2 separate regions of the Homo sapiens genome follow, and region 1 is linked to region 2. Evidence: fine-mapped expression QTL. A gene starts in region 2. The other region holds a variant in brackets. All regions are shown on one strand. Distances are between the middles of the regions.

Region 1 (4,390 bases), 35 kb before region 2:
ATTGACCCACGGCATGCATCTGACCTCATCCACCTCCTGCAGCTGTCAGTCCTCCGGGACCTCATTCACCTCCTGCAGCTGTCGGTCCTCCGGGACCTCATCCACCTCTCGAAGCTGGTGGTCCTCCGGAACCTCATCCACCTCCTGCAGCTGGTGGTCCTCCGGGACCTCATCCACCTTTTGCAGCTGTTGGTCTTCCGGGACCTCATTCACCTCCTGCAGCTGTTGGTCCTCTGGGACTTCATCCACACCCTGCAGCTGTAGGTCTTCTGGGACCTCATCCACCTCCTGCAGCTGTTGGTCCTCTGGGACCTCATCCACCTCCTGGAGCTGTAAGTCTTCTGGGACCTCATCAACATGCTACATGTGTCTGTCTTCCGGGACCTCATCCACCTCCTACAGCTCTTGGTCCTCCCAGACCTCATCCACGTCCAGCATGTGTCTTCCCTCCAGGACCTCATCCATCTTTTATAGCTGCCTTCCTCTAGGACATCATTTACCTTTTTGTTCTGTGAGGCCTCTGGGACCTCCGACTACATCTCCACTTAGTAACCTCTGGATCCTCAGCCACCCCTTCTACCTGGGTGGCGTCTGGCCCCTCAATAACCACCTTCACATGAATCTCCTCGGTTACTTCAATAATCTCCATTTGTGGTCCCTGGGACTTCAGCCACTTCCTCCACCAGGGTCTCCTCTAGTACATCTGCCACCTCCTCCACTTGGCTGGCCTCTGCTATCTGAACTCCTCCAGGACCTCAACCAGCTCCCCTACCCATTGTTGCCTGTAGGACCTCGACCACGACCTCCACATGTACTACTTGGTATATTTATCTGAACAGTATGAACTGAGTTGCAAAATGGATTCATCTTTCCCTTTCTGAATGAATAGAAATGTTACAGATTGTACTGCAGGGCTTTGCACTGGCTGAGGATGTGGTCACTTTGCTCAAGTTTCTGAGAGTACAAGTCAGTTGCATTATTTCCTCATCATGACCTTGGCAGAAGGTATCTTCTGTAGATGAGGAAAGAGTTTTTTTTCATTTTAAGGGGTGGGGGCAGAGTCTTGCTCTGTCACCAAGGCTGGGGTGCAGGGGTGCACTCCTGGCTCACTGCAACCTCCGTCTCCAGGGCTCAGGTGATCCTTCCACCTCAGCCTCCAGAGTAGCTGGGACTACAGGTGTGCAACACCATGCTTGGCTATTTTTATTTTTTAACTTTTTGTAGAGACCACGTTTCACCATGTTGCTCAGGCTGGCCTCAAGCTCCTGGAGCCATGCCATCTGCCCACTTTGGCCTCCCAAAGTGCTGAGATTACAAGTGTGAGCCACTGTGCCCAGCCAGAGGTTATTTATAGAAGCTAGAAATACAAGTTTTGCAGGCTTGTGTGGAACCTGGGCCATATGGCCAGCTCTGTGAGGGATGAGACCCATCCCTGGCTGGCAGGGCATCCTGTGTGCTGCAGCAGAGAGACCCACACTGAAGGGCACAGAGCTTCTGACCAGCCCAATGGAAACACAAGTGAAGGGACACAGGGTGCAGAAGGAGGAGACAGAATCTCCTGGGAGTAAACAGGAGGCTGTGGAAGAGAAAGCTGAAGCAGGGAGGTGTGACATGGGGGGTTGTTGAACTCAGGTAGAGCTGGAAGGCTGCTCCTAGCCAGGCAAGCAGCGTGAGCAGGAGCATGGAGGCTGCGGTGAGGGCCACACAGAGCTGCCATGGGAGCTCAGATACCACATTGTGCACAGGAAATTACCACCCCAGCACTTCCTTGTTGCCCTACAGCCTTTAGTCCATTATCGGTAGGAAGATGATTCTTTCCCTGGGTGCATGAAGGCTCTAGATCGGGGTGAATGAATGCCTAGAGGTCTGAAAATTTTAACTTGGTTCTGTCAGGGGAACCTGTCTCCCTGAGTTTTCACGGCCTAAGGAGACTAACAATGAGGATGGGTCTGGTTCAGTGGAGCTGCGGCCTTGGCCTTCAGAATGAGGCCAACTCTGGCTGGAAACTCAAGGCCAATCCTGAGCTGCTGTGACCTACTCTGATCTCCTGCACCCTCTCCTTCCCACCCACAACTCTCAGCTTTGCATCTCCCAACCTTGGCAGGCAAAATGCTTCCCCTTCCCTGTGTCTTTGCTGCCTAAGCCCAGACACCAACTCTCAGTAGAGCTCAGAGCCCCAGCTTTCTCAGAAATGAGCTGGGAATGATGCGATTATGAGGTCATGGTGAGGACAGGGAGACCAAGCTCATAAGGAAGGCATCTTGCAAAATAGCTGGTAGATGGTAGAGCCTCACCCCTCCCGCTGGTTAAATGAAAATATTTCCACTCAGAAGATCAGCAAAAGGTGTTCATTGAAGTTCATTTAATAAACCTTAGGGTGTAGCAGCTCAGGCTCTGGGATTTCCAGTTTCTCTTTCAAAAGATAAGGGAAAGCCCCTGTCTCCAAGATTAGAATTCAGATCCTTACGAGATGAAGAGATCCTAAAAATGCATACACAGTTAAACTCTGAGATTTGTATCTGTGATCTGTGGATAATTATTCTCCATGACATACAGACACAGATATGGCCACACACAGAAGTATTCAGCAGGGGCACAGATATTTCATAGAAGACAAAATGTATATTGGGCAAAAGAAGGTCACCTGGAAATAAACCGAAAT[C/A]TTTTTACCTTACAGGATAATTTTGAAATTTGAAGAGTCTCCTGGGCCATGATATCTTGGAAAAGTCTCTACCATATTTGATGCTCCATGTCCCATGCTTCCTCCTCTCTCTCTCATTTCCAGTGTTTCCCTTTAGAAACATTTGCAGTCCTATCTTTCTGGGTGTCCGCTTCCTGGAGGACCAGTTCACACCCCAGGGTATACCAGGTGTGACTCCTCATACACTATTCAAACTCAGGCAGATACTGCCTTGCTGGACACAGAAGCAGGGTTACCCTTTGGGTAGTGTTGACTGGGAAGGGTCCGAGGGGGGCTTCTGGGGTGGGGGAATATCCTGTATCCAGCCACGGGTGGAGGTTGTGCTCATTCATTCTAGAAAGAGTCACTGTGCTCCTAGTGACTGCCAGTGGTGCCTTGTGAGCAGATAGACAGTAATACATCCCCATGAGGTGGCCAACTTCTGACAGGGAATAGAAGGGGGCCCAGCAGTGGCTGTGGAGCCTGTGAGGGGCCTCGCAGAGACTCAGGGTTTGTCAGAGCCCATTCCCCACTGAGCCAGCTGCCCTCGGTAGAACCAACTCCAGGCAGCTCTAAGGGAAGTTGAGCTGGGTGTAGACATTTCTCCATAAGTCCTGTGCCCCCCACCATCTTCCTGTAATTTTTAAATTGTGTGATAGGCAGAGGTCGGTGGTGAGAGGCTCACTGAGCAGGACTGGAGAGGAGTAGAGAACGCAGGGGTGAGTTCAGTCAGAGGATGAGACAGGCAGAGAGAAGAGAGAGAAGGGATGAGAGAGGGAGGGGAAGGACAGAGAGAAGGAGAAAGACAAGGAGGATAGAGAGAGAGGGGTTGAAACAGTGAGAGAAAGAGAGAAGGGAGAGAGAGAGAAGGTGGAAGGTGAGGAGAGAGAGAGAGAGAGATGGAGATGGGAGGATGGAGTCATGGAGAGAAGTTGATTTGGGCCCAGGGGGAGAAAAGGAAAGCTGGAAGAGACAAAGACAGAAGGACCCACAGTGAGAACCAAGGGAGTTGGAGGGAGGGAGATGTCCAGAGAGCTGGCCAGTGATCCACACACGGAGGGAAAGGCAGAGAAAAAAAGACAGAGAAGAGAGGAATGAAGACAGGAAACAAGAGAGATGGAGAGGACTGAGACAGGGAGAGGAGGCTGGAGAGAATCACAGAGAAACAGCACAATAGAGGTAGGGAAAGAGTTGTTGAGGACAGGGTCACAGAGAGAAAGGAAGGACAAAGAGGGAGGCAGAGAGAAGCAGAGAAAGAGAAAGCAGGGAACAAAAGGGTGAGCCTGCAGGAGGTGGAGGGGGGCAGATGGCCTGGGTGAGGGGACAGCAAAGGCAGGTAGTCCTGGGACTCAGGAGCCATGGGAGTTCTTGCACTCCAAGGCTGTGACCTCCTTAAGGCCCAGCGCCATGAAAGCCCATCACATGGGGACACGCAGGCCTCCCTTGTGGCTGGGTTGCTGTGTGGAGCCTCTGGGTCTGTCCCTGAAGCAAGGACTTCCAGGGGAAAGGGCTGCCCTGTCTCAGGTTTGCCTCCTCTGTGGGGTGGGGATCCCAGCAGCCTCCCTCGCTGCCTGGTCCCTGCTGCATTTCCCATCCTGGCCAGCTAGGTGGCTGTCAAGTCCCATACCTGGGAACCAGGCTGAGACCCTTTGTCCAGCCTCATCTGTTCTCACCTGGCTCCAGATTCCAGCCACAGCTCTGGCAAACAGT
Region 2 (4,390 bases):
GGGACGATTAGACAAATTGATTGGCTGTCATTAAGTATACAAAACAATCAATTGATTGGCTGGCACGTTCATTCTCAGTCCTCTGAGCACATTGCTGCTGCGCACAATGGACCATTCTTGGGACCACTAGCCGCTGCATGCCAAAAAACCCACTTCCTCCGGGTGGAGTGAATCTTTCTCCTAACCTATACATGAGGCTCATAGCCATGGAGCTGATCAGAATGTGTCAGAAATCAGCAATGTATCTGAGATTGAAAATACAGTAAACCTAGATACTTTATACAGTTATGCACAATGAAAGAGGCTATTTACATTGAACTGAGCTAAGTCACATAAAAAACTCAATTCAATTCAAGGTTTTTCAACAGCTGCACTATTAACATTTTGGGCCAGATAATTCTTGAGAGGCTGTCCTGTGCACTGTAGGATGCTTAGCAGTGTGCCTGACCTCTACTCAATACATGGCAGTAGCACCTTACCCCCACCTCCTATAGTTGTGATAACTGCAAATGTCTCCAGACAGTACAAAATGCTCTTGGGGGTTGTGGGGCAAAACTGCCACCAGTCAAAAACCACTGGCTAAAGTATATGGAAGGAGTAGTGCACTGAGGTGTCCAAAGCCAAGTTACAAGGTAGGAAAGATAAATATCTTTGAGGAAGAACAAGAGCAAGGAAGATGGAAAAAGGCAGACTTGGCAATAAGTTAGCAAACACTCGAATGAATTTTGAAGAGGGACTTAACTATAGAAGTCTGTACATCTATCCCCCAGGGGTCTCCAAGAGCAGTGGTTCTCACCCCAGAGCATCAGCATCTCCTGGGAACTTGTCAAAAATGCAAATTCTCGAGCCTCTCCCAAGACCTACTGAATCAGAAACTCTGGAGGGTGGGGCCCAGCCCTCTGTTGTCTTGACAAGCCCTCTGGGGGATTCTGAAGCTCCCTGAAGTTTGAGAACCACTGTCCTACACTTGAGGCTCTGAATGTCCTGGTCCTAGTTCTCACCGTCATCAAGGAAGCTTCTCTCACTTCCGCACATCACAGTCTACCTACTTTTCAGGGACCAAAATCAATGCCTAAATTTTCTTCCTGTTTAGAAGGTCTTCTATTCTGCTCTTAGAGAACGTTACTGAGTCCCCAGCACCTAGAGGTCTACCCCAGCAGTGACCAGGGTGCAGGCTTTCATGCCTAAGTTGCACATGCTTCACATGCAAAATTTAGTCACCCATGGTCTTGTTTCAGGAACATTCCCTGTTGACTTAAATTGGCCATGGATAATAGATTAAAGCTTTCCTAAAAAAAAAATACATATAAAAAGTTAAGACCTGATCATATATTTTGCATGTGTCATACTCTTAGCCAGCCAGCTGCTACTCCCTGTCTTGGACCCACTGTGCTGGCGTGCTGGTGGTGGGCCACAGCACGGCTTCATCAGGAGGGACTGTTTTATGAAACTACTCCATGCTGTTTCTCTAGAGATCCCTTCTGGTAACTCACACACATTGCTCTGAAGAGCTCTGGTAAAAGTGACTCCTACAGGTACGAAGTTACAGTCAGATAGGAGGAATGAGCTCTGGCATTCCATTGCGCAGTAGGGTGACTGAAGGGCTAGAAGAGGGAATTTTGAATGTTTTCACCACAAAGAAGTAGTCAATGTCTGTGGCAATGGGTATGCCCATTATCCTAATTTGATCATTAAATGTTATACTCATGGATCAAAACAACACACGGTACCCCATAAATATGCACAATTATTATGTGTCAAATTAAAACCATTTGTAAGTGACTCCCTCAGTATAGGCTTGGAATGATCGTTTTCCAGTCAGTCCAAGACAGCCTACTTACCCGGGTGTCCCTCTCCCACAGACTCCGATGTGAACATGAAGACTCCTTCACTTAGAGAGTGGTCACACAAGCCATCCACCGGTCCATTCATCTTCTCACACTTCTCCACTCACGCTTCTTTCAGTGAACAATTTTGAGGCTGTGACTTTGCCTGAGTTTTTTTTTCTTCTTCTTCTTCTTCTTTCAACCCAACAGGCTTGTCTTTGGCAGAGCCACGGGGATCACTTCTGCCTAACTGCCTGTGAGCACGTGAGAACAGGCGAGGACTGCTGAGAAGGGAGGGAGTGGATGGAACACGGGATGTGTCCCTCCCTCCAGCTTGCCACAGCTTGCTCCTGAGCGACTCCTATATATGGAAAAGCGAAAGTGCCTGAAAAATCATGTGAGAAAATTGGAGGAGTCCATTTCCTAAGAGGGGGGTCTTCTTACCTGGAGGAATTTCAATTCTTATCCCTGACTTTCCAAACTCTAAGCACCTGGTCAAGGTAAGGTAAAGAAGGCTGTATAGTTCTGCAGAATTGAAGCTCCTTTGGGACTCTCCTTCAGCTCTTAGCCAATCTTGGTAGTGCTCCAGAGTTCACAACCCACCTTGGAGAGCAGGGGTCTGTGATCACCCAGAGATACAAGCAGGCAACAAGAAACTCTTTCTCAGAGATATGGTTTAGGCTAAGATTGCAACAGTGCCTTTGCTGTTGGGTGTCCCCTCCTCCCCTGCGTCTCATCTGGATTGGTCTCTTCCCATTCTATCTTCTCAGGGAGAGCAGGAGCACGCACCTGTATTCTGAGCCAGCTGTGATGTTACACAACAGATTCATTTTAGAGGAAAAGCTTTGAGTCCACGTGTTTCTGCTAACAGAAACCACCTAACCTGTCAACTTCTCTAAAAGGCTGGCAGGCATTTTAACAAGCAAGATCTTTAAAAAGTATCTATCTGGGGAGGTTACAGAGAACAATGTGTGTGTGTGTGTGTGTGTGTGTGTGTTTTTTTTAGAAAAAAATGCTTTTGAGAAATGGATTCATTACAGGGAAATTATCAAAGTCCAGTTTCCCAAAGCTTCCGGATTATAAACATCTACATATTCAGTTCTATACATGTAATAAACATCGTGTTCACATAACTCTTGCATTATTTTTTGCTTTGACCAAAAAAAGTAGTAAACAGGATTATATCTTTAGTTCATGTACTAAATGACAGCGTCTCACACTCTCAGATCCAGCTGCATCCTCAGACCCAAGGAACAATGGGGAATTGAGACCACAGAAAATGAGGATGGGTGGAGAAACCAGTTCCCACTAGAATGCAATAAAAAGTAATCAACCATAACCTTGTGCATCAAAGCTTGGACTGTGGGAAGCAAAAGTTAGGAAGCAATAGCCTCACCTAACAATTCTGGTGACCAAACCCCCCTCTGAGTTTATTATCAAGCATTTGGAAAAATTTTTTCTGGCACACATTCTGGTGCTCCAAAGCTTGAGTTTTGCTAACTGATGACCAAACATCATCCCTTCAGGGAATTAAAGCAGTATTAAGGTGACCTCTTCTGGAATAAAGTAAGGGATGTTACATATGCATAGCCAATCAACGGCATTTAACAAGGAGTGAACTGAAGTGCTTAGGCACAAGACTGTTGAAAGTTCAGAGAGGAAAAGGCCACTGGGAAGGGATGGACAAACGAGGAATCAAATAGGGACTTTAGACAACATCGCCTTGTCATTGCCAGCACACAGGACTCCTCTGTTTGCACTTAAGCTATTTCAACATTGCTGGCCCTTAGTAAATTTCTTCTGGGTACATTAGTTTTAAACCTAGAGGCAATATGAGCTAATGTTTAATTTGAACTGTAGAACTAGGTGACCTTAGCAGTTAAAATTGTATGATAACAATTATGGTCCAAATTTGATTTAAGAACAAGATGATGTGTAAGTAGCAGGTACTCTTCAAGGTTCCTAGAGTTATCAGGAAGACAGAAAACAAAGCAGTAGCTGCCTTCTGAATTCCATAAGTAACAGCACCATGGGGTGGAAGGCGTCAGGGTGGGGAGACGATCTGTTACACAGATATGTGTGCAGGGGGCTTTGGCAGCCTGGATGCCAATTGAGGGTGTGAGGGAGGGATCTGAGAGGCACCTCGTTAAAAACTCATCTCAAGTATGAGTTTCATTTAAGACCCCAACTAAATACTAGGATGCCTTATATTCTTCTAGCAAGTAAATGTTAAGAAGCAGTACACGGAGCATGGTGGATGGAAGTGCAGGCTTCTGGACTAGGGTCCAACTTTTGCCTGTAACCTCCCATGCAGCATGGAGAAGGCTTCCTAACCTTTCTAATCTGTTGTTTCTTCTGCTGTAAAGCGGGTTAAATAATTACCTACCTCCTAGTGTTATTTTGAGAACTAAATGAGGTCATTTAGGTATGATGAGTATTGGACAAAGTGCTAGCACACAATACAAATTTAATAAATATCAGCTAATATTATTAAGCAGTCTATTTACATACATATGATTTTCCTCTGAACAAAAATAGATTATGGTATGTATACATATGTATGT

Evidence for each region.
Region 1: its variant is fine-mapped to the expression of MAT1A in unexposed skin (GTEx, PIP 0.97).

The regions. Positions count from the first base shown.
Region 1 is chr10:80,252,735-80,257,124 of GRCh38, forward strand. LOC100130698 (a long non-coding RNA gene) reads left to right here. Exons shown (of 6, transcript NR_136612.1): 6 at 1-2,674. Among named protein-coding and RNA genes, the nearest start is that of MAT1A, 35 kb to the right of the region's middle. RefSeq lists enhancers at 1,033-1,152, 3,618-4,118, 4,119-4,390. The variant C/A (reference allele first, on the strand shown) is at 2,663.
Region 2 is chr10:80,287,492-80,291,881 of GRCh38, forward strand. MAT1A (methionine adenosyltransferase 1A) reads right to left here and starts at 2,167. Exons shown (of 9, transcript NM_000429.3): 1 at 1,842-2,167. The coding sequence starts at 1,932. RefSeq lists an enhancer at 2,002-2,296.